2 separate regions of the Homo sapiens genome follow, and region 1 is linked to region 2. The links come from fine-mapping of genetic effects on gene expression. A gene starts in region 2. The other region holds a variant in brackets. All regions are shown on one strand. Distances are between the middles of the regions.

Region 1 (15,962 bases), 27 kb before region 2:
TGCCATTGCTCTCTGGCATGTAAAGTCTTAAGTGATGGCTTAACTTGCAAACCTGAGATTTTTCAGTGCTTTGCTATTTAAATAAGCATTGTTCCTGGCTCCATTATGGCACAAGTCCCATTAATTAACCTGGCAAGTAGTAGGTTGATTCAGAGTACCGTGAGGGGGGATTAGGACACTAGCTGTCAAGGCCCAATAAGGGTCAACTCAAAGAAGATGAAGTGATGGCATTTTAAACACTTTGTTTTGGATCGTATCTAAGCCACCTTCTCATCAGGGTCCTGTGGGTGGGTCACTGCAGCTCCTAGAAAGACAGCTTACTGCAAGGGAAGTTTCCAGAGCCTACCACTGGCCCTGAAAATGGCAGTGAGAGGATCCCTCTTGGACTTCACCTTAAAGGAAGGGATGGGGGATTGCCGGGGAGCAGAGGATTATTTCATTCTCTCTGGCCTCTGTGTCACTTTTGCCAGAACCTTGAATATATCTAACAGTATTTGGTCTTTTTTTTTTTTTCCTTTTAATATTTATCTGTCATTCTTATTTTTCTATAGATGAGCTTTTGTGTATACAGCATTCTGGGTGTGGTGAAACGAACTTGCTGGCCCACTGACCTAGAAGAGGCCAAAGCTGGGGGATTTGTGGTGGGTTATACATCCAGTGGAAATCCAATCTTCCGTAACCCCTGCACAGAGCAGATTCTGAAACTTCTTGACAATTTGCTTGCGCTTATAAGGTGAGTCAGAATAATGGCTTTTCTCTGTTGTTTTCTACTTTACCTTAAAAATTTCAAAAGTTTAGTCTGTTTACATGTCTTCATATCTTAGTGGTATTAATGAGGGATTGATTTAAGTCTTATTTCTTTCTAGAGGGTGTCTCAGTTTTAAAAAAAATAACATCAGCTCTCACTTGCATAAATCTTAATTTCCATGTGAACCCAAGGGGATAATCCCAAAAGGGCTTTTCCCATTTTGAGCCTCCTCTTTGTTGTTCTTCCATTTCTTTATACTTCATCCCTATTTTTACTTGTAAGTTTTATTTGGTCTAAATTTTTTAGTAAAGGAATTGCTCATTGGGAGCAGGGCAGTTGCCTTCTATAATGATGCTTGTCTAGGTGGTATTCATATGAGCTAATCTGAATTTATCAATACTGAGTCTGAGCTCAGATGAACCAAACAACCGCTGGCTGAACATGCTAAACAAAGGAATTATAAATTTTTCATCTGAGTTTGCTAGATCCTTGGTTCTCAAAGCTGAGTCCTAAGACCAGTAGCATTAGCATCACCTGAGAGCTTATTTCAAAGGCAGAATCAAGGCCCCACCCCAGACATACTAAATCAGAATCTGCATTTTAACTAGATGCCCAGTGGTTTATATACACATTAAACATTCAGAATCACTGTTTTAGATCACATGAGTTAATATATTCAAGTGGAAGTAGGCCAGTATAGGCTTATCAGTTACTAGATATAGATATTTGATGACTCAGGGATGGTCTCTAAATGAAAAGATAGGTTTTTTTATATAATTCAGTTATTGGCCAAAGAGTGCTTTTTGTATCTCACAGGATTGGTTTTTTTTTTGTTTGTTTGTTTTTTTGAGACAGAGTCTCACTTTGTCACCCAGGCTGGGAGTGCAGTGGTGCAATCTTGGCTCACTGCAACCTCCGCCTCCCAGGCTTAAGCGATTCTTCTGCCTCAGCCACCCAAGTAGCTGGGACTACAGGTGTGCACCACCACTCCTGGCTAATTTTTGTATTTTTAGTAGAGACAGGGCTTCGCCATGTTAGCCAGGCTGGTCTCGAACTCCTGGCCGCAAGTGATCAGTCCACCTCGGCCTCCCAAAGTGCTGGGACTCCAGGAGTGAGCCACCACACCTGGCCTCTCACAGGATGTTTAAATTACATTGTTAGAGCTCTGTTTCAGTACTTTTTGGCCCCTTCTCCAAGGAGTAAAAGCAGTCTCAACGGGGCAAACCAAATTATTCATGTCGCAGTGAAACTCTCCTGGGAATAGACACCCAAGACCTGAAGCCTGAGAACCAAAGATTTTAAGTTAATGTTGACAAATTGGAGGGCTGGAGTGTCTGATAAAGTTGTCATTGTGGACATGTCTGTGGAAATAGACAATATTTTGGCGGGGTGTGGTGGCTCACACCTGTAATCCCAGCACTTTGGGAGGCCAAGGTGGGTCAATCACTTGAGGTCAGGAGTTTCAGACCAGCCTGGCCAACATGATGAAACCCTGTCTCTACTAAAAATACAAAAATTAGCTGGGCATGGTGGCACATGCCTGTAATCCCAGCTACTCGAGAGGCTGAGGCAGGAGAATCGCTTGAACCCGGGAGGCGGAGATTGCAGTGAGCTAAGATCACGCCACTGCACTCCAGCCTGGGCGACAGAGTGAGACTTCCATCTCAAAATAAATAAATAAATAAATAATATTTTCTTTTGATTTCTAAAGGAGGAAAGAGATCTCTGAAAAGAAGTAGGACTTGTACTGAGAGGGTTAAACATTTAGTCAAGAAGAGGCTTATTTCTATCGTGATGTTTTTATTAATAGAGATGGGGTTTTGCCATGTTGCCCAGGCTGGTCTCGGACAGCTGAGCCTGCTTCAGTCTCCCAAAGTGCTAGCATTACAAGTGTGAACCACCACACCCAGCCCCATAGTGATGTTTTTTAAAACCACAAGGTTCTTCTGCAGCTAGAGAAACGTGAAAGTGATGGAAATCATAGGGCAAGAAGCTAATCACCTAGACCTTTTTAGGCCTGTGGCCAGAATCTATGTGGCCAACCCAGACGTGGAAACAGGGTTCATTTCTGGTTGACTCTAGAGGCCACAAGACAACAGTATGATTATCTTTTTTTATATAATTTTCTTTTTTTAAAAAAGTATAATCTCTTTTCAATTTCTAGTCACCTTCCTATCAATCAGTAGAGGAAGATTCTCATGTGTTCACTATGTCTTTCTCCAGTTTTTTCCTCTATAAATTTACTACTCCTATTTTCTATAGAAAGACAATGGAAAGTGTATAATTGCTGTCGGTAGATAAGTAGGTCTTGAATTTATTTTGCAAACAAGACCTGTTCTGTCTATCCTTTCATTTAGGAGGCTAACAGCAGACTCAGCTTGACTTTAAGGACTCTATTTTCTTAGTCTTCAGATGGTTATCATTTTGATACTTTTCTAAGAGTTCAGTGCTTTTAGAGAATTCCAAAAATCAATCAAAAGGCATTTTGAAAAATGCCTAGCATGTAATGATAGAGTAGATTGCTTGAATAGTGTGTAGCTGGAGCTATTAAGAGTTTTGCTTTTTTAGTAAATTTTATTGGCTGGGCGCGGTAGCTCATGCCTATAATCCCAGCACTGTGAGAGGCCAAGGCGCATGGATCACTTAAGGTCAACAGTTCGAGACTAGCCCAATAAACATGGTGAAACCCCACCTCTACTAAAAATACAAAAATTAGCCAGGCATGGTGGCGGGCGCCTGTAATCCCAGCTACTCGGGAGGCTGAGGCAGGAGAATTGCTTGAACCTGGGAGGTGGAGGTTGCAGTGAGCCAAGATCACAGGGAAGAGTCTTCCCTGTCCCTGGGCAACAGGGAAGACTCCGTCTCAAAAAAGAAAAAAAAAATTAAATAAATTTTATCTTGAAGTGTAACATTTATGTAGAAAAGGGCTTAACTTGTGAGTGTGTGTAGATGAATTTTCACAAAGTGGACACATTCATGTAATCAGCACTCAGATCAAGAAGCAACTTTACCTAATACCTCTTTTCAGTAATTACCTGCCCCTCAAAGATAACTACTATTCTGATTTGTATTTATTTATTTATTTACTTACTTACTTACTTTTGAGGCACGATCTTATCCTGTCGCCCAGGTTGGGGTGCAGTGTTGCGATCACGGCTCACTGCAGCCTCGACCTCATGGGCTCAAGCAGTCCTCCCACCTCAGCCTCCTGAGTAGCTAGGACTACAGCCATGAGCAGCCATGCCCAGCTAATTTTTAACTTTTTGGTAGAGATAGGTTCTCTCTATGTTGCTGAGGCTAGTCTTGAACTCATGGGCTCAAGAGATCCTCCCAAAGTGCTGGGATAACAGATGTGAGCCACCTCACCCAGCCCACTATTCTGACTTTTAACATTTTGTCCAGGTTTTTGAACTTTGTGAAAATGAAATCAGAAGTATGCACCTTTTGGTGTCTGCCTTCCTTTCGCTCAATATTTTGTTTCTGAGGTTCATCCATGTTACTGCATGAATGTACTTGTGTTTTTTTTGTTCTCCTTGCTTGTATGATACTTCATTGTGTGAATATGCTGTAACTATTCAGCCTTGATGGACCTTTGGGTGATATTTTAATATTACATATCATGCTGCTGTTGACATTCTTATGTCAAATACGTTTTGTGAACATATATATATAATTTCTGTTGGATACACACATAGGAGTAGAATTCCTAGCTTATAAGAAATGTGTATTTTCTGTTTTTATAGATGCAACCTGCTTTTTAAAGTGGTTATACTAATTTATATTCCCACCAGTTATATGCTGGAGTTGGGAGTTTTAAATTACTATTTTTTGGCTGGGCACAGTGGCTCACGCCTGTAATCCAAGCACTTTGGGAGGCCGAAGCAGGTGAATCACTTGAGGTCATGAGTTTGAGACCAGCCTGGCCAACATGGTGAAACCCCGTCTCTACTCAAAATACCACCACCACCAACAAAAAAAATTAGCTGGGCATGGTGGCAGGTGCCTGTAATCCCAGCTACTCAGGAGGCTGAGGTAGGAGAATCGCTTGAACTTGGGAGGCGGAGGTTGCAGTGAGCTGAGATCATGTTACCGTACTCCAGCCTGGGCAACAGGGTAAGACTCCATCTCAAAAAAAAAATTGAAAAATAAATAAATTACTATTTTTTTAGTAGAGAAAAGTTTGCTTTAAGAATGTAGCAAGGTATTCATAGCACCTCCTGCGTCAAATAATCTGATAATAGAAGGTGTTGAAGCTGTGCTGTCCAGCATGGAAGCCACTTGCCACATGAAACTATTGAGCACTTGAAGTATTACTAGTCAAGTGTTACAGTACTTTCAGAATTGGTCTGGTAGGCTTTCCAGTTTTCTCTGGAAAGCTCCTTAGAGAAAAAAAATAAAAATTAAAAAATAAAAATGACTAGCCTGAATTGAGATGAACTGTAAGTATAAAATACACACTAGATTTCTAAAATCGGCCGGGTGCGGTGGCTCATGCATGTAATCCTAGCACTTTGGGAGGCTAAGGCCTTAGGCAGATCACTTGAGGTCAAGAGTTCAAGACCAGTGTGGCCAACATGGTGAAACCCCATCTCTACTAAAAATACAGAAATTAGCCAGGCGTGGTGGTGTGCATGCTTGTAACCCCAGCTACTCAAAAGGTTGATGCAAGAGAATCACTCGAACCCAGGAGATGGAGGTTACAGTGAGCTAAGATCGTGCCACTGCACTCCAGCCTGGGAGAAAGAATGAGACTCTATCTCAAAAAAGAAAAAAAGAAGTATTGGATTACTACAGTACTTACAAAATGAAGTACTGATAATTACTACACTGTGGATCAACCTTCAAAACATTATGCTAAGTGAAAGAAGCCAGACACAAAAGGCCATATGTTGTATGATTTCATTTTTATGAAATATCTAGAGACAGAAAGTACATTGGCGATTGCCTCAGGTTGGAGAGGAGAAGAAAGTGTAGATCAACTGCTACTGCTTAATGGGCCTGGCAGTTATTTTGGGGGCCATGGAAACGTTTTGGAACCAGGTAGAGGTTACTTATGCAACCCTTTGAAAGTATTAAATACCACTGAATTGTGAACTTTAAAATGGTTAGGTTTTGGTGGGGATGTTTTTTGTTAGTTTTTTAAAGTTTTGTGGGTACACAGTACATACATATATTTATGGGGTACATAAGATGTTTTGACACAGGCATGCAATGCATAATAATAATCACATCAATTAAAATGGGGTATCCATCCCCTCAAGCATTTATCCTTTGTGTTACAAACAATCCAGTTATAGTCAACTGCAGTTATGCTTTTTAAATGTACAATCAAAATTATTATTGACTATAGTCACCCTATTGTGCTAGGAAATACTAGATCTTATTCATTCTTTGTGGGTTTTTTGTACCCATTAACAATCCCTACCTTACCCCTAACCCACCACTACCCTCCCCAGCCCCTCTGCTAACCATCCTTACACTCTGTATGTCCATGAGTCGAATTGTTTAAATTTTTAGATTCCACAAAGAGTGAGAACATGTGATGTGTCTTTCTGTGCCTGGCTTATTTCATTTAGCATAATGACCTCCAGTGCTATCCATATTGTTGCAAATGACAAGATCTCTTTTTTTTTTTATGGCTGAATAGTACTCCTAAAGTGGTTAGTTTTATGTTATGTGAATTATGCCTCAATTTTTTAAAATCTTAATAAAAATAAAGCTGGTTCTTTGAAAATACTAGTGATAACATCAGTAAATTCAAAAGCTTAAGAAAAATGGGGCTGGGCATGTTGGCTCATGCCTGTAATCTCAGCACTTTGGGAGGCCACAGCAGGAACATTGCTGGAGACCAGCCTGGGCAACGTAGCAAGACCCCATATCGATTTTTTAATTTATTTTTTTTGAAACGGAGTGTCACTCTTGTTGCCCAGGCTGGCATGCAAAGGCATGATCTCGGCTCACTTCAACCTCTACCTCCCAGGTTCAAGCGCTTCTCCTGTCTCAGCCTCCTGAGTAGCTGGGATTACAGGTGTGTGCCACCATGCCTGGCTAATTTTGTTTATTTATTTATTTATTTTGAGACGGAGTCTTGCTCTGTCGTCCAGGCTGGAGTGCAGTGGCGCCATCTCGGCTCACTGCAAGCTCTGCCTCCCAGGTTCACGGCATTCTCCTGCTTCAGCCTCCCAAGTAGCTGGGACTACAGGTGCCCGCCACCTCGCCTGGCTAATTTTTTGTAATTTTAGTAGAGACAGGGTTTCACCGTATTAGCCAGGATGATCTTGATCTCCTGACCTCGTGATCCGCCCGGCCTGGCTAATTTTGTATCTTCAGTAGAGACAGGGTTTCACCATGTTTGCCAGCCTGGTCTTGAACTCCTGACCTCAGGTGATCCCCCCTCCTTGGCCTCTCAAAGTACTGGGGTTACAGGCGTGCGCCACCATGCCCAGCTAATTTTGTATCTTCAGTAGAGACAGGGTTTCATCATGTTGGCCAGGCTGGTTCTCAAACTCCTGATCTCAGGTGATCCGCCCATCTTGGCCTCCCAAAGTATTGGGATTATAGGCGTGAGCCACTGTGCCCAGCCCCGTCTTCTATTTTTAAAAATAAAATATTTAAAAATGGATAATTTCCAGGGAAAATGTAACTTATTCTAACTCAACAAGATAGAAAACCTAAAGAGATATAACTTCATATTAATTATATTGGTAGTAGTTAAATTAGACCAAAAAACTCCAGGCCTAAATGATTTTACATGGGAGTTCTCCCAGACCTTCAAGGAACAGATAATTTATCTCTTAGACAAACTATTCCCAAGAATAGAAAAATGTAGCTTCTTCTCCGAGAAAACACCAAATGGCGGATGACGCCGGTGCAGTGGGGGGGCCTGGAGGCCCTGGTGGCCCTGGGATGGGGAACCGCGGTGGCTTCCGCAGAGGTTTCGCCAGTGGCATCCGGGGCCGGGGTCGCAGCCGTGGACCGGGCCGGGGCTGAGGCCGCGGAGCTCGCGGAGGCAAGGCCAAAGATAAGGAGTGGATGCCCGTCACCAAGCTGGGCCGCTTGGTCAAGGACATGAAGATCAAGTCCCTGGAGGAGATCTATCTCTTCTCCCTGCCCATTAAGGAATCAGAGATCATTGACTTTTTCCTGGGGGCCTCTCTCAAGGATGAGGTTTTGAAGATTATGCCA[G/T]TGCAGAAGCAGACCCGTGCTGGCCAGCGCACCAGGTTCAAGGCGTTTGTTGCTATCGGGGACTACAGTGGCCACGTCGGTCTGGGTGTTAAGTGCTCCAAGGAGGTGGCCACCGCCACCCGTGGGGCCATCATCCTGGCCAAGCTCTCCATTGTCCCCGTGCACAGAGGCTACTAGGGGAACAAGATCGGCAAGCCCCACACCGTCCCCTGCAAGGTGACAGGCCGCCGTGGCTCTGTGCTGGTGCGCCTCATCCCTGCACCCAGGGGCACTGGCATTGTCTCCGCACCTGTGCCCAAGAAGCTGCTCATGATGGCTGGTATCGATGACTGCTACACCTCAGCCCAGGGCTGCACTGCCACCCTGGGCAACTTCGCCAAGGCCACCTTTGATGCCATTTCTAAGACCTACAGCTACCTGACCCCCGACCTCTGGAAGGAGACTGTATTTACCAAGTCTCCCTATCAGGAATTCACTGACCACCTCGTCAAGACCCACACCAGAGTCTCTGTGCAGCAGACCCAGGCTCCAGCTGTGGCTACAACATAGGGTTTTTATACAAGAAAAATAAAGTGAATTAAGCGTGGGAAAAAAAAAAAGAAAAATGTAGTGCTCCATAACTCATTTTATGAGGCTTATTTATTTTGATACCAAAACCAGACATTAACAGTACCAAAGAGGAAAATTATAGGCCTAAATCACTTGTAAACATAGAGACGAAAATCCCAAATCAAAAGCAATATGGAGCTAGTAATAAGTCTTTTAATATAACCACATTTCCATTGTTATATCTCAAAATACTACCAGTAATTCAATATCCAGTATACAATCAGTATTCAAATATCACCGAATGTTTTCCTTTTTTCTGTTTATCCACACAAGGTTTATATATATTTAAGATATCTCTTAGTCACTAAATTAGGCTTAGCGTGGTGCCTCACGCTTGTGATCTCAGCAGTTTGGGAGGCCGAGGCAGGCGGATCCTTGAGGCTAAGAGTTTGAGACCAACCTGGCCAACATGACAAAACCCCATCTCTACTAAAAATTTAAAAAAGTAACCAGGTGTGGTGGTGCGCACCTGTAGTCTCAGCTACTTGGGAGGCTGAGGCACGAGAATCACTTGAACCCAGCAGGCGGAGGTTGCATTGAGCTGAGATCACGCCATTGTACTCCAGCCTGAGCGACAGAGCAAATCTCTGTTTCAAAAAAAAAAAAAAAAAAAAAAAAAAAAGATGTCTCTTAGGCTCTAAATTTATAAGTTCCTTGCCTTTTTTTTTTTTTTTTTTTTGAGACCATCTTGTTCTGTCACCCATGCTGGAGTGCACTGGTGCTATCTCAGCTCACTGCACCCTCCGCCTCCCGGGATCAAGCAATTCTCCTGCCTCAGCCTCTCGACTGCCTCAGCCTCTCGAGTAGCTGGGATTACAGGTGTGCGCCACCACGCCTGGCTAATTTTTTGTATTTTTAGTAGATACAGGGTTTTGCCATGTTACCCAGGCTGGTCTCAAACTCCTGAGCTCAACTGATCCACCTGCCTCAGCCTCCCAAAGTGCTGGGATTACAGCCGTGAGCTACCATGCCTGGCCCTCTTTTTCTTTTCAATTTATTTGTTGAAAAATGTGGACTTGTATTTCCAGAGTTTCCCCTGGTGAAATTTTGATGATTGCATCTCTGGAGTATTGTTTGATCTTGTCTACTTTCCTTTATTTTTGTTATTTTGTTACACGTGAATATGTCTAGAGGACATATGGCACTCTGCAGCCTGAGGACCAAATGTAAGTCTCCACATGTTTGTAAGTAAACTTCCGTTGGAACATACCTTGGCCATTCATTTACCTACTGTTTATGGCTGCTATTGCGCTTCAATGCAGAGTTGAGTTGTCGAGGACAGACACCATATTGCCGGCCAAGCTTAAAACATGTATGAATGTGACCTCTGGTCTAGAAAACTGACCTCATACCAGTTCAGTTTTTTAGCAGATAATCCTTTGTAGATGATGATGGGTTCAACACAATAGTAAAGGTTTAGCCTTTAAAAGACTCCCAGGTATGTATTACAGGTTGATCTATGACAGAAGTAATGAAAGTTAGAAAAAGATGGCTGGGAATAGTGGCTCATGCCTATAATTTCAGCACTTTGGGAGGCCAGGGCAGGAGGATCTCTTGGGGCCAGGAGTTTGAGACCAGCCTGGGCAACACAGACACTTTCTCTACAAAAAAAAAAAAAAAAGTTTTAATTATTCACGTGTGGTGGTGCACACTTATAGTCCCAGCTACTCGGGAGCCTGAGGTGGAAGGGCCACTTGAGCCCAGGAGTTTGAGGCTGCAGTGAGCTATGAACACACCACTGCAATCCAGCCTGGGCAGTAGAGTGAGACCCTGTCTCTTTAAAAAACAAAAAACAAAACAAAAATCAATTATTCAATGCTGGGACAGTTGGCTTTCTATGCAGAGTTGAGTTGTCGAGGACAGACACCATATTGTCTGTTTCACCGTGTTAGAAAAAACAATTAGATTCCTACCAGCCACCACACACAGAAAAAATTTTCAGGTGTTTTAAAACCCAAAAAGTAAAGCTGCTTTTTTTTTTTTTTTTTTTTTTTTTTTTTTTTAGATAGAGTCTCACTCTGTCGTCCAGGCTGGAGTGCAGTGGCGCGACCTTGGCTCACTGCAACCTCTGCCTCCCGGGTTCAAGCGATTCTCCTACCTCAGCCTCCTGAGTAGCTGGGATTTACAGGCGTGTGCCACCATGCCTGGCTAATTTCTGTATTCTTAGTAGAGACAGGGTTTCACCATGTTGGCCAGAGACTGGTCTTGAACTCCTGACCTCGTGATCCACCCACCTCGGCTTCCTAAAGTGCTGGGATTACAGGCATAAGCCACCGCATCTGGCCAAAGTAAAACTTCTAGACCATATTTACAGCATGAGGTTAGTGAATGACTTTTTTTTTTTGTCGAGTTGGAGTCTCACTGTGTTGCGCAGGCTGGAGTGCAGTGGCACAATCTCGGCTCACTGCAATTTCCGCCTCCTGGGTTCAAGCGATTCTTATGCCTTGACCTCTCAAGTAGCTGGGATTATAGGCATGCACCACCACACCCGGCTAATTTTTATATTTTTAGTAGAGACAGGGTTTCACCATGTTGGCCAGGCTGGTCTCAAACTCCTGACCTCAGGTGATCCGTCTGCCTTAGCCTCCCAAAGTGCTGGGATTACAGGCATGAGTCACTGTGCCTGGCCAGGGTAGCGAATGACTTTTTTTTTTGAGAGGGAGTCTCGCTCTGTCACCCAGGCTGGAGTGCAGTGGCACGATCTTGGCTCACCTGGATTCAAGTGATTCTCCTGCCTCAGCCTCCGGAGAAGCTGGGATTACAGGCATGCACCGCCATACTCGTCTAATTTTTATATTTTTAGTAGAGACAGGGTTTCACCATGTTGGCCAGGCTGGTCTTGATCTCCTGGCCTCAGGTGATTCTCCGGCCTTGGCCTCCCTAAGTGCTGGGATTACAGGCGTGAGCCACTGCGCCCGGCCTAGAATGACTTTTTTTTTTTTTTTTTTGAGATGGAGTCTCGCTCTGTCACACAGGCTGGAGTGCAGTGGCGCGATTTCAGCTCATTGCAAGCTCCGCCTCCCGGGTTCACGCCATTCTCCCACCTCAGCCTTCCGAGTAGCTGGGACTACAGGCGCCCGCCACCATGTCTGGCTAATTTAGCTTTTGTATTTTTAGTAGAGATGGGGTTTCACCATGTTACCCAGGATGGTCTCGATCTCCTGACCTCGTGATCCACCGCGCCCGGCCTCTAGAATGACTTCTTAAGCAAGAACAAACAGAACAAACTATGGAGGCTTAAACATGGTCTGAAAGATGTTTTCAGTTTGCATCTTAAACCTGTAGCTACCATGCCCGGCACCCACCACCACACCTGGCTAATTTTTATATTTTTAGTAGAGACTGGGTTTTACCATGTTGGCCAGGCTGGTCTTGAACTCCTGACCTCAGATGATCCACCCACCTCGGCCTCCCAAAGTGCTGGGATTACAAGCGTGAGCCACTGGGCCCAGCCATAGAAACACTTCTGTTTTTTGGGGTTTTGTTGTTGTTGTTGTTTTTTGAGACAGAGTCTCGCTCTGTTGCCCAGGCTGGAGTGCAGTGGCGCAGTCTTGGCTCACTGCAAGCTCAGCCTCCCGAGTAGCTGGGACCACAGGCACCCACCACCACGTCCGGCTAATTTTTTGTATTTTTAGTAGAGACAGGGTTTCACTGTGTTAGCCAGGATAGTCTCGATCTCATGACCTCGTGATCCACCCACCTCAGCCTCCCAAAGTGCTGGGATTACAGGCATGAGCCACTGCGCCTGGCCTTTGGGGGGTTTTTTTGAGATGGAGTCTCACTCTGTTGCCCAGGCTGGAGTGCAGTGGTATGATCTCGGCTCACCACAACCTCTGCCTCGCAAGTTCAAGCAATTCTGCCTTAGCCTCCCAAGTAACTGGGATTACACGCATGCACCACCACACCCATCTAATTTTTATATTTTTAGTAGAGACAGGGTTTCCCTATGTTGGCCAGGCTGGTCTTGAACTCCTGACCTCAGGTAATTCGCCAGCCTCGGCCTCCCAAAGTACTGGGATTATAGGCGTGAGCCACCGAGCCCAGCCTAGAATGACTTCTTAAGAACAAAAAGAACAAACTATGGAGGTTTAAACATGGTCTAAAAGATGTTTTCAGTTTGCATCTTAAACGTGTAGCCATCAGTTTGTTCAGTGGGGTCATTTCTGTGAGTAGGTAAGAGTGCTGTGGACAGCGGGTATATCAAGTTCACAGTCCTTGCTCCTTACTCAAAGCCTATAATTGCTCAGGTAGGTCATTTTGGTGGGGGACAGCATGTGTTGGGAATTGTGTTCCTCTATCAGGTCCAAACAGCTGTTGCAAGGTCCATGCTCTTGGAATTAAGACAAAACATTGAAAAATGGGGCAAATTACCACCTCCTCTGTGTTCCTACCTGTAAATCCACAGTGTTGCACACATTTCATTCCGTATCACTGGTGGTCAAAAAACTCCTGGGACCACCTCAGATTTAAAAGAATTTTGCTTTCTAGCTTTGGACTCTGATACTGTCCTGTGTCTTGGGGTTTAGTTCTCATGTTAATTTATCTTAGGTATTGTATACTAAGATAATTATATCTATACAAGTCTGTTCCCTCCTCCAGCGAGCATTCAGATATTTATACCTTCTTTTCTTTCCCCTGCCAGGAGTTGATGGGCAGATCTGTGTGAAACTGTAGTATCACTGGATTACAAGCAAAACCCACTCTTTCCTTCTGCATCAGATGGAAAAGCTCAATAGCATTCTTGTTTCTTTCAGAACCCACAATACATTATATGCACCAGAAATGCTAGCCAAAATGGCAGAGCCTTTCACCAAGGCTCTGGATATGCTTGACGCGGAAAAATCTGCTATATTAGGTAAGAAATGTAACCTTTTTTCTCCTAAGGTTTATCTTATCCCTAATGGATGTCCCCTTTTTTTGTTGTTTTTTAAGAGTCATAGTCTCTGTCACCCAGGCTAGAGTGCACTGGTGCAACCATAGCTCACTGTAGGCTCAAACTCTTGGACTCAAGCAGTCTTCCTGCCTCAGCCTCCCGAGTAGTTGGACCACAGGCAGATCACAACGCCAGACGAACTTTAAAATTTTTTTGTTGAGACAGAGTCTTGCTATGTTGCCCAGGCTGGTCTTGAACTCTTATCATCAAGCAGTCCTCCCACCATGGCCTTTAAAGCACTAGAATCCTAGTGATTACAGGCGTTCTTATGGGTTCCTTGAGCAGCTTCAGCCTATCTTGTGCTTCTTCCATCTTGTCTTGCACTGCCTTGACCATCTATTTGTTCAGAAATGCAGAATGTGGAGTTCCTATAAGCTCTATATGAACAAGTGTATTTACTTCATTATCTTAGCATACAGAGAAAATCGAAGGCAATTTATTTTTTTTCCCCGTTAACCCCTTCTTCAATTTAGCCAGTAGGTTGTGGTGGGTGTTACAGCCATTCAATTATAAATAAATCATGGCCTTTAACCTGAAGGATATTTGTATACTTTCCTGCCTCCTCGTGTGTGTGTGTGTGTGTGTGTGTGTGTGTGTGTGTGTGTGTGTGTGTGTAGATAGGTATCAAAGTTTTTAAAGGAATAGATTTTAAGCCATTTCCCAATTGTTACCTTTTTTGTTTTGTTTTGTTTTCTTGAGAGAGTCTCACTCTGTCACCCAGGCTGGTGTACAGTGGTGCAATCTCAGCTCACTGCAACCTCTGCCTTCCAGGTTCAAGTGATTCTCCCACAGCCTGCTGGGACTACAGGCATGCACCATCACACCCGGCTAATTTTTTGTATTTTTAGTAGAGACAGGGTTTCACCATGTTGGCTAGGCTGGTCTCGAACTCATGACCTCAAGTGCTCTGCCTGCCTTGGCCTCCCAAAGTGCCAGGATTATAGGCATGAGCCACCACGCCTGGCCTTCCAGTTGTGACCTTGTTAGGATACTGCTTTAATTCATTTTCCCATTGAAAATAAGCATGAAAATAACTGTGCAGTCATAATTGTGGTATTTGCTGTGAAGGAAAGTGGCAGGGCTCTGAGTGTTTATCGGGAGACCTAACCCAGTCTCAGAGGGAAGTCAGAAGGCTGACTCCCAATGGGGACTTGAAGGATGAGTACGAACTAGCTAGGTTAGGGGCATGAGGAAATGCTGGGCATTCTGGACAAACAGAATGGCAGGTATAAGATCTGAGGCAAGAGAAAAAGGCCTTGGTATGTCCAGAACATAGAGATGGTTGAATCATGTGGCTGGAGCACAGGGAGCTAGTCTGGGAATGTGGGATGAAGTTAGAGCTAGAGGCATCAGTTGTCTAAACCTTGTTCCCATCTCAGAAGCTTCAGGCTGGCTCACCATCACAGCCCCCATAGTTTGTCTTTGTCATCAGCTATAACCTGTGTCTGAGCCCGGCTGTGGTCAAGCAATCCAATGGCATTCCTCAGCTGTGAAGTTAGCCAAAGGAAGGATGTTAATTTGCCTTTCCAGAACTCATGTCTGTCTGTTTCAGCCTAGATAGTCCTGAATCTTTTCCTTTGACACCATTCCATTTAAGGGTTATGTTGCAGACACCAGTAAAAGTAGAAATTCCAAGAAATGTATAGCTATTAATATAAAAAGTAGGTGTTGCTTACCACACACCCCCATGCCATTATTCAAGTTAAGTCAGGAACTCCTGCTATAGAAATAAGTGGCCAACCAGAAATACTAGAATGGACAAACAGTTCCCACAGATAGCTTCTGACTATAGGACTCGAAATGTAAAACCTCTGATTACACTTAAAAATATAGATATTTTAAGGCAGTTTTTAATACTAAGGTAAGTGGGTTTCATTTTTAGCTGCTACACATCTTAGTGTTTTGTGTAAGATTTTGCTTAAAAAAGGGGTTTCATAACTTAATTGTGGGAGCATCCCCAGAGCTTTATGGAAAAATACTTTTGAGTTGTCACTTTTTTTGGTACAGGTTCCATCTGGGGGAAAAAAAAAAGCAGATAAAAGAGTACCCGGGTCTAAAGTCCTGGGTCCTTAAGTAGCTTTCACCTTCTCCTACCAAAAGAGTGCAGCAAATCACGTAGCCAACTGCTTTGCAGTACAGCACCAGACATGCACACATCTTCACCCCTGAACAACAGCTTCCTGCTGTAGAGTGTTGGCCAATTGAGACTCCTGACAGTGGAGCATCATGTTCTTGACCCGTATTTCCCTGTAGGATTACCTCAACCTCTCTTGGAACTCAATGACTCTCCTGTCTTCAAAACCGTCTTGGAAAGAATGCAGCGTTTCTTCTCTACCCTCTATGAAAACTGGTAAGGAACCAATGCTGCCTCTCCATATTTTCTTCCTCGATATGTATTGTATAGGAATGTCCATGGGTTGGACTTTTCATCTAGTGTACAGGTAAGGCGAGGCAAGAGTTTGATAGGAAACTTATCATTCTAGTGTT
Region 2 (15,902 bases):
TCGTTGGGGTCAGAGGAATCTTTAGCAGCATGGGGGTTCCGAGTGCATCTGACCTGGAGACGAAACTGTAGAGTATCTATCTCTGTGCCTTCTTCATCTCCTGCACAAATGGAGGGAGCTCCTAAGAACTAGTAAACGTCTGAGTGCCAGCACTATGCTGAATGCTTTACGTGTTTCCCATTTAATTATGGCAAACTTGGGAGACAAGGCAAGTGTTCTCACAGATGAAAGACACTGATGTACAAAGATAAGTAACTTACCCAACATCACAGTCAACCAGGATTTGAACCCAGATAGTCCACTTCTCCCAAAATTTCATTTTCTCACCTTGGTTCCGATACTCAAAAAGACGGGGATCAGCATGAATGGGAATGAGCCCCAGACGGTGAGCAAGAATCTCATCCTGAACAATGGATGTATTATTGTACACCAGGACCTTCTCCACAGCCATAGTTGGCACCTGCCCAAGGAAAAATAACCACTTATCTGCAAAAACCCAACAGACCCCCTACCTATCCCCGTAACCCCAACCTCCAGAGGTAGGGAGCTATCTCTCTTCCTAGAATGTTTAATGAGAAATTTACAAAGAATGAGAAGGTAAAATGCTCAGCAAAATTCCAGGAAAATTAAGGAGGGAAGGACAGCTTGAGACACTTAATTCTCCAAGTGAGGTGTCAGTGCAGTTCCCAAAGCAACTCCAGCCTTGTCACCATGCCTGCCAATACCTCAGCTAGCAGAATTCGTCGAAAAGCATTGGCAATGGCTGCGTCAATTCCCACCATGTCAAACTCCAGTGAGTTTTCATCCATGTGTACTACATCCACACGGAAATTCTAGAGGGACAGGAAAAAACATTTAAGTGAAATCTGCTCTCTGTGTAATATCTCTTCATACCTCCCCCTTAGATAATTCCCTCAAGTATTATCCTCTCATCCAAAAACCTCCCTTTGCCCAAATGTCTCTTATTAAATATTCTATCTCGCCCAGTGTTTTAAGTTTCATGAAAAGTCTCCATTTTTGTCGTCCATTCATTAAAACCCTATGCAATATGGCTTCCAACCAAACCATCCACAGAAGCTATTCTACTGAAGAACAGAAACTACCATAGTGCTTAGTTTTGTTGACACTACTCAGTCCTCTTACTAGACTTCTGTTATGCTTGGCATTGATTAAAAAACCCCCTCCTGGCCCGGCACAGTCACTCACACCTGTAATCCCAGCACTCTGGGAGGCTGAGACGGGCAGATCACAAGGTCAGGAGTTTGAGACCAGCCTGGCCAGCATGGTGAAACCCCGTCTCTACCAAAAATACAAAAAATTAGCTGGGCATAGTGGCGCATGACTGTAGTCCCAGCTACTCGGGAGGCTGAGGCAGAACTGCTTGAACCCGGGAGGCGGAGGTTGCAGTGAGCCAAGATCGCGCCACTGCACTCCAGCCTGGGACATAAGAGTGCCTCATGAAAAGCAAAGAAAAAAATCTCCTCCTTTTTTGAACTATTCCCCTGGTTTCTGAGCTCTGAGCTCCACTCTTCTTCCTTCTCTGATGATCGACTTCCACCCATCTCTAAATTTGCCAGGTTCTTGTCTCTCTCCCAGGTCACCTTAACTGTACTAACAGTTTTAGCAACTATCTGTTCTGACAACTCCCAAAATGTTATCTCACTTCTGATCTCATTTCAAGCATGCAGTCTTCTAGCCTGCTAGATTTCTCCACATGCAGAAAACAATGCATCATCATTCCCGTTCCCCAGACCCATTTCTCCTCTCAGTAAATGATACCACAATGCATCAAAGCAGTTCCCAAGCCAAAAAGTCATTTTATGCTACCCCCACAGCCTTTACCAAAGCAATCATAAATTTACCTTCTATTCTACCTTTGCTCTATTTCTACCATCAGTCTTAGTTCATGTCTTCAACCTCAGCTTCCCTTACAACAGATCTGCCTGCTCCATATGATCCTCCTCAAACTCATTCCCTCCCAGCCACCAAGGTTGCAAATCTCATCATGTCTGCTTAAGAACTATTCAATCTCCCTATCATCAACAGTGCCCAAGACACACTTCAACCTTGCCTACCACTCATGCCAGAACTACTTGGACATGCCCGGAGCACACTTCACACAAGCCATAATTTTTTTTCAAGCATTAACCTTTTTCATTGTTCATACTTTATTCCTTGTATCAACAGGTTAAAAAAGTAAAATTTTCCCAAGCACTGATTTACAGATCATGTTTATAAGCTGCACGCAAAGGTCAGTTGCCTAAACGGTAACATTCAGTAATCTATTTAAATGCAATTTTAACCCTTATTTTAAGCTAAGTGAAACAATACAAAAGACTAAATACACACAAAACCTGTATATCCTGAACTTCACTGACTTGAAACAAACCCTTCATAATTTAACTCCTGTTCTTTTTTACTTACCATTCAAGGCTCAATTGAGATGTACCCTCCTCTTGAAATGTTAAGTACCTCTCCGCCCCTCTTCCTGGTCTCAGCGTAATGCTCCCCACCCCAACCCTGCCGTCTTCATCGCTATCAACCACCTTCACCATATTACACTAGATTCACTGTTTATACACACCATTCCTCAACAAGACTGAACATCTTTGCAGAACTGGGTAGAAACCGTGTCTAATTTGGCCTGTAAACGGAGCGTCTAGCACATTGCTCAACAAACTTACAAACGGAGCGACCCCCAAGAGCAGCTTCTGAGACAGACACAGGCTGCTCAGACCACAAGGTCTGGCCTTCATAACCCTCCCCAGACAACTCCGGCCCCACTTACCTTCTCGAAGCGGTCCTGGTCCCAGGCATCATCATAACCGGAATAGTTACCGGGAAAGTCAGTAGTATGGACCTAGAGCAAAGGGACGAATTTGTCCACGAAGGGACAGTGAGCCCACAGCTATCCCCACGCCAATCCCAAGACCCATCCCTGTTCCGCTCTCATTCCTCCCGCCCGAGCTCAAGGCCACAAGGCTTACATTGCGAACCCCAAACTCCCCCAGAACCACGCGGCTCCGCATTTCCTCCACCGCCTGAGAAGCCGCCATCTTCAATCTCTCCACGAGACTAGAGGTTCTATCTCGCGCGTGCGTCCTAGTAGCCCTGCTCCGTCTCCGTGGCAACGCACCGCCTCCTGGAATCTTAAATATCGCGAGATTTTTCCCCGCCCCCGTCCACGTCCCCAGCTTCCGGAAGTTGCTTTTGTCCAAACATCCGGGCTTCTCCTTTTTGTGTTCCGGCCGATCCCACCTCTCCTCGACCCTGGACGTCTACCTTCCGGAGGCCCACATCTTGCCCACTCCGCGCGCGGGGCTAGCGCGGGTTTCAGCGACGGGAGCCCTCAAGGGACATGGCAACTACAGCGGCGCCGGCGGGCGGCGCCCGAAATGGAGCTGGCCCGGAATGGGGAGGGTTCGAAGAAAACATCCAGGTAATGGCCCCAAGGCACCAGCTGCCAGCAGCCGGAGGGCCGGCGATGTCCAGAAGTGTCTTGGGGATTCCCCCTCTGGGCCTGGAAGTCCGCTCCATTTACAAAACTCTCTTCTTTGGGTCTTCGTGCACACTAAAGTCAGTGGGATTAACATTGACCTGAAAGGGCCAGACTACTACTCCAGCCTGAGGATCTCGGGTTTCAGGGCCCGCCCGAGGCATTAGGAAGAAGGTATTCTTGGAACAAGTTAGGAGGTTGGTCGGGGTAAGGCATGGAGTGGGGTTGGGTGGGATTCACTGGCATTCGCTGAAAACATACTATGTGTATAGTTTTGTTTGGGGCTTAGGAAAGAAGGAAATGGGCACTTTTTCAGCCTTTTAGTCTTTGATAGGTAACATAGGAGAAAGACATGAATGGAAGACTAGTAGGTTTCCCAGGCTAGAAAAGATAGCCAAAGCTAGAAACCAGGCGTTCTGAGAGCATATGAGGGGGAATGGAGTGGCATGATCTGTAGTGATTCCAAGCCGTATCCTCAGCAGTGGAAGAACAAAGCCCTAAACCCTGGGATGAGCAGAGGACTTAATGGATGGAACAGAAAAGTCCTGCACTCTAGGAGCCATTGTCTTCACAGGGCGGAGGCTCAGCTGTGATTGACATGGAGAACATGGATGATACCTCAGGCTCTAGCTTCGAGGATATGGGTGAGCTGCATCAGCGCCTGCGCGAGGAAGAAGTAGACGCTGATGCAGCTGATGCAGCTGCTGCTGAAGAGGAGGATGGAGAGTTCCTGGGCATGAAGGGCTTTAAGGGACAGCTGAGCCGGCAGGTGGCAGATCAGGTAAGCAAGATTGAATCCTCTGCAGGTAGAAAAGTAGACCTAGGTATGTCCCGTGTTCTGGAATTGGTGTTGGTGATGTTCGCCCCAGGTTGTCCAGTTAGAACCATGTAGAAATCAAACGGAAAATAGGCAACAGGATCTAGAACCAACAGTACCACAATACCTATGCCCATCTTCCTTACTTCAGATGTGGCAGGCTGGGAAAAGACAAGCCTCCAGGGCCTTCAGCTTGTACGCCAACATCGACATCCTCAGACCCTACTTTGATGTGGAGCCTGCTCAGGTGCGAAGCAGGTGAGGAGCCTTCTCTTGAAGAAGCTTCCCTCCTAACACCTAGACCTTCATGCACACTACAGTCAGATTTCAAGCCCTGGGCTCTGATGGGCTCCCCGTCTTCATGACCCCATCACCTCTCATCACTGCACCTGTCACTGAAACAAGTAATAATAGCACACCATCTTCCTCTTCTTTTCCATCTAACTGACTACTCATCTTCCCTCAAAACCTACCTCAGATGTCACTTCCTCTGTTCCACATTCCTCAATCCCATCCCCAGTTTGTTCTCTCCTGGTGTTCCTATAGAACTCTGTGCTTGCCAGCCGGGCATGGTGGCTCACGCCTGGAATCCCAGCACTTTGGGAGGCCGAGGCGGGCGGATCACAAGGTCAGGAGATCGAGACCATCCTGGCTAACACGGTGAAACCCTGTCTCTACTAAAAATGCAAAAAAAATTAGACAGGCGGGTGCCCGTAGTCCCAGCTACTCGGGAGGCTGAGGCAGGAGAATGGCATGAACCTGGGAGGCGGAGGCGGAGCTTGCAGTGAGCCGAGATCGTGCCACTGCACTTCAGCCTGAGCAACAAAGTGAGACTCCATCTCAAAAAAAAAAAAAAAAGAACTCTGCGCTTGCCTCTAATAGACAGCACTTCACCACTGCTATCCTTTCTTATTCCTGGAATCTTCCTTCCAGAGACCAACAGCATCTCAAAAGCAGGCTCTGTCTTGTTTATCTTTTTATTCCCAGCACCAGAACAGTCTCAGAATCAAAATATCAGGGCATAGTTTTTGAGTGACTTTTCAAGAACTAGATTTAATCCTGGCTTGGTTTTTTTGTTCATCCTTTAATCAATGCTAATCAAATACCCAGGACCACTCAGCAGGTATTTATTAAGCATTTGCTCTGTGCCAGACGCTAAACTAATCGTATCTGGTTCAGTGGTGAAGATAGATGGGAGCCTTGCTCTTGAGTGCAGTTACAGTACAGTACTCATTCTATGATGGGGCACACAGGAGGGATATGTGAGCCAAAGCAGGTTGGTGGGTGGGACAGGACAAGTTTCCCAGAGGAAGTAAAACCTAGCTAAAATCCCAGGTATGATTAGGAGCTAGCCACTTGAGAGAAGAGGGAAGTGACTAAATTTTCATACCACTTCACATATATTTTTCAAGAAAATACTCGAAAGTGCCTGGAGGCACAGATAAGCAGGAAGAGGAGGCGTTTTTACTATTCCCTCAGTAACACCTTTCATTCTAAACTTTCCATCTAGCCGGCTAGACTTTTCCCAGGGCTTCCTCATTATAACCCTGAATTCTGGGTACTCTCTGCTGAGGTCTGCCTGTCTTGTCATGTCTTTGTTTTGTTTTGTTTTGAGATGGAGTCGCACTCTGTCACCCAGGCTGGAGTGCAGTGGCGCGATCTCGGTTCACTGCAACCTCCGCTTCCCGGGTTCAGGCAATTCTCCTGCCTCAGCCTCCTGAGTAGCTGGGACTACAGGCGCCCGCCACCATGCCCAGCTAATTTTTTGTATTTTTCGTAGAGACAGGGTTTCACCATATTGGCCAGGCTGGCCTCAAACTCCTGACCTTGTGATCTGCCTGCCTCGGCCTCCCAAAGTGCTGGGATTACAGGCGTGAGCCACCGCGCCCAGCCTGCCTGTCTTTTCAAGGGGAGGGGGCAGACGGATACATGGTCGGGCCCTCCTTCAAGGCCCAGTAGGGCTGAGTTCTCCATATAGCTGCTGTTTCAGTCAGCTAAGTTTCAGAGGGTTGTCCTTCCTGGAAGTAACTTTAGGGGCAAGGAAATGATTTCCTCATTCCCTATCTGTCTTTACTACCCTGTTCTACCGTGTCATCCAACATGTCTTCTAGGCCAGGCCCCATTCCCTGGAGTTAGAGATGAATAAAATTCAGGCCTTGCCCTCCAGAACCTCATGGCCTTGTGCTGCCTTTGCTTTAATCTCTCCTCTCCTCTCCCAGGCTCCTGGAGTCCATGATCCCTATCAAGATGGTCAACTTCCCCCAGGTGAATAGAGGGTGGCATGTCTGGAGAGCCGGGGGAAGCACCAGGGCAGAGGGTGGGACCACCAGGCAAATCCTGGGAAGCCATAAACAGATGAGCTGTTGTACCCTCCAGCCTGAATGAATTGGTATATTGACAGAAAATTGCAGGTGAACTCTATGGACCTCTCATGCTGGTCTTCACTCTGGTTGCTATCCTACTCCATGGGATGAAGACGTCTGACACTATTATCGTAAGCAGGACAGACAACTTTGGGGGGGTGGCTGCACTAGGTTGAAAGCTGCCTGAGGATACAATGGTGGAGTGAGACAGGAACAGCCCCTGCGGAAGGCCCTAGGTGAGGCTGAGATCAGAGGCCTCCTAGGACTAAATAGAGCCTTCACCCCACAGCGGGAGGGCACCCTGATGGGCACAGCCATTGGCACCTGCTTCGGCTACTGGCTGGGAGTCTCATCCTTCATTTACTTCCTTGCCTACCTGTGCAACGCCCAGATCACCATGCTGCAGATGTTGGCACTGCTGGTAAGGAGCCAGGTGTGGTGGGCAAGAGTGATGTTAAAAAGAGTAGCCAGGCCTTGGTCGGCATCTGTCCTGGGGCCCCAAAGCCTGGAATGGGAGGAGTAGGCCAATGGACCATGTGTTTCCCAGGGTCCCCATGAGGGGCCAGAAAGCAGCCCAACCTGAATGATTTTCCTCTCCACCATCCTCCTTCCCAGGGCTATGGCCTCTTTGGGCATTGCATTGTCCTGTTCATCACCTATAATATCCACCTCCACGCCCTCTTCTACCTCTTCTGGCTGTTGGTGGGTGGACTGTCCACACTGCGCATGGTAAGCTGGGCAAGAGGCTTCCAGGGGTGGGCTGTCCTCCCAGGGAGTTGGGGAAGACAGCCTGGAGCTGTCCATCTCACAAAGAGCCCTAAATGGGAGGGAAGAGCCCAAAGATGGTTCTGCCCTGGGTGGGGGTGTCTTGTCCCCACTCCTCACTTTGGAGCCAGGCCCTTTGAGCTGTATTCTCATGGTCCTAGGTAGCAGTGTTGGTGTCTCGGACCGTGGGCCCCACACAGCGGCTGCTCCTCTGTGGCACCCTGGCTGCCCTACACATGCTCTTCCTGCTCTATCTGCATTTTGCCTACCACAAAGTGGTAGAGGGTAAGTGGCAGGAAGGTCTGGGTGGGGGAGAATGGGAAAGCAGCTGCCTAGAGCAAGAAGCTAGATATGATGGCTGGTGGGCTGGGCCCATCTGATCCTCGCTCACCTTCCATCTTCCTTCCAGGGATCCTGGACACACTGGAGGGCCCCAACATCCCGCCCATCCAGAGGGTCCCCAGAGACATCCCTGCCATGCTCCCTGCTGCTCGGCTTCCCACCACCGTCCTCAACGCCACAGCCAAAGCTGTTGCGGTGACCCTGCAGTCACACTGACCCCACCTGAAATTCTTGGCCAGTCCTCTTTCCCGCAGCTGCAGAGAGGAGGAAGACTATTAAAGGACAGTCCTGATGACATGTTTCGTAGATGGGGTTTGCAGCTGCCACTGAGCTGTAGCTGCGTAAGTACCTCCTTGATGCCTGTCGGCACTTCTGAAAGGCACAAGGCCAAGAACTCCTGGCCAGGACTGCAAGGCTCTGCAGCCAATGCAGAAAATGGGTCAGCTCCTTTGAGAACCCCTCCCCACCTACCCCTTCCTTCCTCTTTATCTCTCCCACATTGTCTTGCTAAATATAGACTTGGTAATTAAAATGTTGATTGAAGTCTGGAACTGCAGCGGCTGATCCAGTGGTCCTCCCTGTCATCCCGCTTCCTATATACTTTCCTACTCAGTCAACAGTGGTAATGTCATATGTTCCCTTCTTCATATCCTCACCCAGGCAAGATAAAGGTGGGACAGGCCAGACTACATAGAAGGCAGTGATTGAATATCACACCTGACCCATGAAGCGGCAGGGAGGCCTCAAGCACAAAAGCCATAAGCCTGATGGAACACTGCAGCCAGCTTGAGTCTGGGCTCAGCTGCTCTCTTGGGAAGCCAAGGAAGCAGTGACAATTGAACAAAACATCCCGACTTAAACCCCGTGTCAAAACAAGGATCTTCTGCACCTGGGCATTGTGTTGATAATTTTCCTGTGGAGCTCTTAATTGAAGCCAAATTTGGCTTTGCCTTGGTGGTACTGGGGCCAGCTCCTTTTAGTTTTTCTGTCTTTCCTCTTAAAACCAACCACCACTCCTAACATAGCACCATCCACCCCCACCACCTCTTTAATATGCTCCACTTAATAAGTTAATTCAGGTGGCTAAGAGTGGGAATAGGGCCTTTGACCTCCCTTCACTATATTGAATATTATATTTTATGTAAAATAATCATCTTAACACTAGTAAATCTGGGTCAGCAGCATCTATCCCTCCTAACAAAGGGACAAACAGAGGTGCCCTTCATTTGTCCTGCGTTACACAAGTGAGTCCCCCACCACCCTGGCCAGAGGACAAAGTTGAGACAGCACCGCCTGCACCGTGCAGTGTGGCTCAGCCGCCTTCACGTCCTCACCAGTGCTCCAGGGCCCTGGCCCTGGCACCTTCTTTGTATTGGCTGCCCCAGTCTCGCGGCACGGACACACCCTCAGATGTCAACAGTGCCCTGCGTACCTGAGAAGGTGTGGCACCAGGACCTTGCATCTATCTGAGGCTCCCCTGCCCTAGGGACCCTATGGGGTACCCTTCTCCCCAGCAGCTCAAGCTGGCTCTGCCCAGCCGTGGCCCCTGGGGCCTCCCTGATGAGGCCGCCATCTTGGCGAGGAGCAAGCGGGGAAGTCCCCATGGGCCGGGATCACCACGCACGCTGCGCCTCGAGTCACGGGGGCGGGAGCGAGGCGCGGCGCGGATGAAAGGGCCCTGGGGCCTTCCAAATAGGAGGGAACAGTGCCCTGGATTCCGGCGGGGGTATGGACCTTAGGAACGGGGAAGGATGGAAGAATGGGCAGAAGCAGCAGTAACCGTGCCCAACGCCATCTCCACGGGGCGTGCCTCCATTCCGCTCCCCGTCAGCCCTACCCACTCAGCCCTGCCGCCTGCCGCCTGCCAGTTGGCTGACCCCACTCCCAAGGGAAGAGCGGCCTATCGCTCCCAGCTCCTTGCCCCGAACCACCCAGTGTACGCGAACCTCGCGGGCCGGCGTGGCCTTGGCCGGGCAGGGGGCGGGGCGAGCGCCGGTGACGCGGCCGTTGCCATGGGAACTCGCCGCCCGCTCGCTCTCTGGAGCTGGAGCCGGAGCTGCCGCCAGCCGCCCGCCTCAGGCTCTCTCTGCCAGCCGTGCGGCCAGGCCCGCGGGGTGGTCGGGGGGAGCCGGGCGGCAGAGAAGGAGGGAGCGGGTACGGCCTCCTAGCCGAGACCGGTAAGCCGAAGCCCTTGAGCCGCTCGCTGCCGCTGCCGCCGCCGCCGCCGCGACCGCGAGGGACAAGGACAAGCGCCGAGCAGCGCCTGCCCAACCCCCGGAACGCGCACCCGCCCCAACGCCCAGACACGGACCGTGCGGGCCGCCCCCGCCCCAGCGCCGCCCCACTTCAGCCCGGCCCGCGCCCTGGACGCCTCCGCACCTCTGGCCGGCTCCGGCTCAGTCCCGGTAGCTCTTCTCCGCCCCCGCCGCAGCCTCCGCCGCAGCCGCAGCCTCCGCCACAGCCGCCGCCTCCACCCCCGGCCCCACTCCGCCCGCGACCCCTGCCGGGGCCCCGACCCCGGCCCTATCCCCGGCCCCGCCCGCGGCCCCACCAACCTCCGTTCCGGCCCCGTACCCGGAGGCCCAGCCGTGGGCACGATGCTGCCCAGCTCCATCCAGATTTCGGGGGAGCCGCTGTCCGGCGCCGAGGTGCGGGACATCTGCCGCGGCCTTCGCGACAACGCCGTGCGCCTGCTCTCACTGCGCGGCTGCCGCCTCTGCGACCGCGACTTTGGCCGCATCTGCCGGGCCCTGGCCGGGGCCACGTCCCTGGCGCAGCTCAACCTTAACCTGGGCGTCGTGTCCAGCCCCAGCCGCATCAAGCAGCTGGCTGAGGCTCTGCGGACCAACCGCTCCATCCAGTCCCTCTTGTGAGTGCGCCCCCTCGCAAGGGGGTCCCGGGCACTGCACCCTTCCATACACTCCCCTGGCACCTCCTGTTCCTCCACACTCCTTCCAGTACCATCCTACCTTCACATGCCTTATGCACATACACCGTGCCTCGGCCCATGCCTTCACAGCACCCTCCAAGCACATGCTTGGACTTTGCACGCGCGACCCTAGCCGTGTTGGGATACCCACCAGTTCCTGACATGAGGTGGGGGCCGTACCTCCCCACCTAATCATCTGCATTTACTTCACTGGGGCAGCTCCTTGGTTCCCAAGGGGGAATATCCCCGTGGGGACGAGAGCCCTGCCCACTGCAGAGTTCCGGTCCACCACCCACCCACCCCTTCTCTGCCCCTCCCTGTGCAATGTCCTGGATCCCTGCCCCAGAAAACAAACCGAATTCTCCCTCTATCTGTATTCCCTGAGAATCTAGAACTTTCCTTCTCCTTTTCCAGGCCTCTCAAGCGCTGTGACTGCCCTCCCCATACCTAGGGCTGACAGAAGTGAAAGTGCCCCTTTCCCATGTAGATAGTGCGGAGGACTGCAGTAACCCTGCTCTCTCACTCTCCTCCAGCCTGCATGGGAGCCCCCTGACAGATGCGGGGCTGGCCTTGCTGAACCCAGCCCTGGCCCTCCACCCTGCCCTCGTGGCTCTGGACCTGGGGGACTGCATGCTGGGTGATGAAGCCATCAACCTCATCTGTGGCCTCCTGCCCCCAGATGGGGCCAAATCTGGTGAGCAGGACCCTGTTGAGGGCTTGGGCTAGTGTGGCAGTGATGAAAATCGAAATGCAGAGGGAAGGGGGTGTGGCCCCAGAGCTCTGATGATGTGGGCGAGAACATCTTTCTACTCCTCTCAGGAAGGGGCAGGACGGGGGGCAGCATGGAGACTCAGGAATCCAGGCTGGGGCAGGCAGAGGAAGCATGGGCCTCCTTAATGGCTCTTGACCTCTATGGTGGGGGTAAGGTGGTGCCCAGCCACTAGGGACACCCCAGAGACACAGGGATTGTGGGGAAGGGCTGGAGGAGGGCTTAACCCTCCCTATTCTGGTTTCTTGCTATGATGCTGCCCAGGCTTGAAGGAGCTAACGCTGAGTGCCAACCCTGGCATCACCCCTAAGGGCTGGAGCCGCCTTGCCATTGCCGTGGCCCACAGCTCCCAGGTCCGCGTCCTCAATCTGGATTACAACCCCCTGGGTGAGGCTCAAGAATACCCCCTTGGGCTGTCACTGCCTCATGCCCTATCCAAGAGCCTGGGACCATCAGTTGACATGGTAACCCGTACACTGGGAGAGGGAAGAGAAACGGGAGCCCCCAGGGGTCAAGGAGATAGCTTTGTGGCGGACCAGGTGACCAACAAATAGATCAAAACATCAGTCACCACCCGTGGGCCTAACTTGCTTCGTGCCTTCACTCACCAATCACAATGATCCCTTCCTGACCACCACCAATTGTCCATGTTTCCTTGGCCAGGGATTAGTATCTAAAGTTGTTAAGGCAATGGGGAAGCTATCTGTAAGGATTAGCAGGCATGTGTATGAATGTGTGCACGTGTGTTGTCTCCCCAGGTGACCATGTGGCAGGAATGCTGGCTGTAGCTGTGGCCTCTAGTCGTACCCTAGAGGTCCTAGACTTGGAGGGCACAGGGCTCACCAACCAGTCAGCTCAGGTGGGAAGTCGTCATGTTTGGGCACGGCCAGGGGATGGGGTGGAGGTTAGTTTATGTGTCTGATGACATACCTAAGGCATGGCAGGTTGAGGTCTGAGGACCTGCCTTAACTGTGTTCATCCTTTTCCATATTCTTCCCCACTTCAGACCCTGCTGGACATGGTAGAAAATTACCCCACAGCTTTGCGGAGCCTGGTGTTGGCTGAGAACAGCATTAGCCCAGAGCTGCAGCAACAGATCTGTGACCTCCTCTCTGAGGGAGAGGAGGAGGAGGAAGTGGCAGGAGGGGCTGGCGACACCCAGGAATGGGAGAGAGGGCGGGAGCCTGCTGCCCACCAGAGAGGCAGCAGCTCCTGGATGTGCCCCAGCGGTAAGAACCCAGAGGGTTGATCAGAGCCAGGTCTGGAAGAGGCTCGGGACAAGGGAGAGTGGGTGTGCAGAACCTAGGCTCTCACCTATCTGTGGTCCCCATTGGAGGAAGGAATGGTGGTCTGAACACTTCTCTGCCCTTCCACAGATCCCAGCTCTCAGATGGTGCTAATGACGTCAGGACTAGGGGACAGTCTGTTGGCTGAGACCGAGATGTGACTCTCCACTGGGCCTCTGCACACCATTTCACTTATCTATGTCCCGAGCACCTTGCCCCAGATATCAGGGTCAGGCCCTGGGACTTGGGAGGGAACTGGGGTCAGGGGCTGCATGGGGGCTCTGGCAGCTCCTGGCAGTGTGGTGGGAAGGAAGCTCTGGAAGCTGTGACTGAGCAACAGCCTTGGGGGGCACTTGAACCCACGGCAATGCCTTTGAACTTGGCAGCTCTGGCTGCAACCCGCTGGCTCGGAAAAGATTTTATGAACTCCACAACCTGTCGTGTGGCTGTAGTCACTTGGGGCCGGCAGTAGGGGAGGAATTGGAACTACCAGTAAGCACCACTAGGGGGCAGTAGCATCGCACAGCCCAAGCTCTAAGCTGCGTGACCTGGTCCAGGATCTCAAAATAGGCCTGGCCAGGCCTAGAACCCAGGCCTCTGAGGCAACACCTTACACTAGCCCCATAAAGATATGGTCCCTGCCTCCGAGGGAAGACTCAGGAACCCTGCTAAGGTTACTTAAGGTGCCCCCTTTCCCGCTCCCTGATGCTCTGTGCCTAGGGAAACCCTAGGCAGAGTGGGGCGAGGGGGAGTCACTAGCCGACTAGGATGAGACTAGGACTGGGAATACTTATGAATGGGGAGAAAAGTGGGAGAGGGGAGGTCATTAAGACAAGTTAGGCCATACCAGTAAAATAGTTTTATTTGATTTTAAAATAGTCATCAATGTGAAAATTTCTCAAAGCTTAAGAGTAACAGTCTAGAGCCAAGGTTGGGAGTGGGGGCCAGGCCTCACACAGAGCCCAGCTTGAGGCCCCTGAGCCCCACCCTCCTTTCCAGAGGGAGGGAGGAGACAGCTGAGGGGGCCCTGAATCAGTCCTCTCCCTCGTCCCCAAGGCCAGCTGTGCCAGGCCCCTGGAGGGCAACAGCTCATGCGGAGGACTGGGGGGGGAAGCAAACAGGTAGGAAACGGAAATGAGGTTAACAATTACACCATCACCCCCAAAAAAAAACAAAATAACAAAACTTGTGACTATGAAAGGATGGAAGATGAATACTGATAAACTCCTCAGCTCCCCAGAAAAGCCCAGTCTGGGCTGGGTTGGGCTGATTGGAGGAAAGGTCTTGAGACCCAACTGCATGTTACCTCTGAAGAATAAATATTCTAAGAAAAAGGGAAAACCATGAGGCAAGCTGCTGCAGTCAGTCAACGCAGCTGACAGGCCTGGCATGGCCCACAACCTGACCCCATCCACACAGGAAACAGCTGTGCGGGTCTGGATAGAGGAGAGGTCAAGGGCTTGGACTGGGGACCCTGAGCTGCCAAGGTGTGGGGACTCCTTGCAGTCCTGGTGCAGCAATGGCAGGAAGGCCAGCAGGGGCCCTAGTTGAGCAGGTTGCCCTGCTCCTGGGCCTGGGTCAGGCTGTCCTTGCGGTGCAGGTGGTGAACCCCCATCCTCTTGGGGCTGCGCTGGGGGCGACTGGAGCTGGGGAGTGGCCAGGCCCTGCCCTCGGTGTGGGAAGTGCCTGGCCCCTCCTCTGTGCCCCTGTTAATGGGCAGCAGGCTCTGGCGCTCTTCCTCAGGACTGATAGGCAGGTTCAGCTCTTCTTCCTCCCTGGGAAAGCCAGAGTCAGGTTCTGTGGGTAGCAAAAGCTCACTCTCTTCGGGTCGGGCAGAAGGTGCCTGGACCACCTCATCTCTGTCAGCGGGGCTATGGGCAAAATGGCGCTGCAGCTCAGGGAGGGCATCGCGTCCAAAGGCTGTGCGCTGGGCCACAGCAGCAGGTGGTGGAGTACGGTCCACAAATGCCCGCTGCCAGCTGACCAGCAGGTCCTCTTCAGAGCTGGCAGAGCTAGCTGGGGCACTGAGTGTTAGGGGTGCTGGGCTGGGCTGGTGGTGGGGTGAGGCCTGGGCTGAGGCAGGGGTGCTGGGCACTGGGCTGGGGCGGGCCCGCTCACTCCCCTCCTCTACCAGGCTCAGGGAAATGGCCTGGCGGGTAGCGTAAGTGCAGTTGGGCAGGGGGCTGTTGCGGGGGATCCGAACCTTATCCTCAGAGAACTCTATTACCCTGCGGCCAGGATACAGTGGGTGTGGTGGAGACGGGGTTGGGTAGGGGTTCAGCTTCTCAAAGGCTGGCAGGGGCAGCTCTTCCTCCGGGGAGCCCCTGGCAGTACCCAGAGAGTGGCACTCCCCATTGGGTTGTGGGGTGGGGCTGCCAGGGGCCGGGGGACTGGCTGGATCACCTGGGACACCCTCACTCATGTCCACATGCACAAAGACATCCTCAGCCAAGGGGCGCCCGGCGCTGCCTGACTGGGCTGAATTGAGCAGTAGAGACTCCGGCTTCTCTAACACTCGGGCAATGACTGAGGTAGGCACCACAGCCCCTGGGGCTAGGCTGGGAGCAGGACCTGGGCTGGCGGCCTCTTGACCACTGTGCAAATGTTTCCGAACCATGTCCTGTAGCTCACAGGGCAGCTGAGGTAAAAGAGCAGGAAAGAGAGACATCAATGATCGCAGCCAAAGATAACTTGACTCATGGCGAAAGTAATGGCTCCCACCTTTAAGTACCTCTGTGTACTCAGCACTCTGCTATCTCCTGTTCTTACAGCATGCCAGTGTGTATACCCTCACTTCACAGACACATAGGCCTGGAGAGGGGAAGACAACTCAAAGCTTTGGTTAACTTGGCCAAGATTTAAACCCGGATCTGCTGCTGCAGCCAGCATGTTCTCAAACTTCTATCTCCCAGCTTCTGCCCAAACCATACTTAAGTTTGGAGAATCTGCATAGACCAGTAGCCTTAGAAATACCTCTACTTCTGGGCCGGGCACAGTGGCTCATGCCTGTAATCCCAGCACTTTGGGAGGCCGAGGCGGGTGGATCACGAGGTCAGGAGATCGAGACCATCCTGGCTAACACGATGAAACCCCATCTCTACTAAAAAGACAAAAAAATTAGCCAGGCGTGGTGGT

Evidence for each region. PIP is the estimated chance that this variant, and not a neighbour inherited with it, causes the effect.
Region 1: its variant is the best candidate, but not a certain one, in a credible set for the expression of YIPF3 in whole blood (INTERVAL, PIP 0.75).

The regions. Positions count from the first base shown.
Region 1 is chr6:43,531,342-43,547,303 of GRCh38, reverse strand. XPO5 (exportin 5) reads left to right here. Exons shown (of 32, transcript NM_020750.3): 20 at 552-733; 21 at 13,297-13,397; 22 at 15,729-15,825. It overlaps LOC124901522 (U7 small nuclear RNA), which reads left to right and starts at 5,068; the gene lies at 5,068-5,129. It also overlaps a transcript of POLR1C not described here, the pseudogene RPS2P29 and LOC124900224. RefSeq lists an enhancer at 1-335 and silencers at 4,950-4,999, 13,802-14,002. The variant G/T (reference allele first, on the strand shown) is at 7,934.
Region 2 is chr6:43,504,264-43,520,165 of GRCh38, reverse strand. YIPF3 (Yip1 domain family member 3) reads left to right here and starts at 3,240. Exons shown (of 9, transcript NM_015388.4): 1 at 3,240-3,439; 2 at 4,071-4,277; 3 at 4,465-4,571; 4 at 6,533-6,578; 5 at 6,715-6,807; 6 at 6,966-7,097; 7 at 7,292-7,405; 8 at 7,603-7,726; 9 at 7,851-8,334. The coding sequence starts at 3,359. The coding sequence ends at 7,999. It overlaps POLR1C (RNA polymerase I and III subunit C), which reads right to left and starts at 3,077. Exons shown (of 9, transcript NM_203290.4): 1 at 2,988-3,077; 2 at 2,789-2,860; 3 at 726-833; 4 at 328-460; 5 at 1-100. The coding sequence starts at 3,056. TJAP1 (tight junction associated protein 1) reads right to left here. Exons shown (of 11, transcript NM_001350562.2): 11 at 13,612-15,405. The coding sequence ends at 14,311. LRRC73 (leucine rich repeat containing 73) reads left to right here and starts at 9,820. Exons shown (of 6, transcript NM_001012974.4): 1 at 9,820-10,652; 2 at 11,246-11,406; 3 at 11,746-11,868; 4 at 12,240-12,340; 5 at 12,488-12,710; 6 at 12,858-13,198. The coding sequence starts at 10,381. The coding sequence ends at 12,928. RefSeq lists an enhancer at 2,951-3,500 and silencers at 9,663-9,952, 9,973-10,242.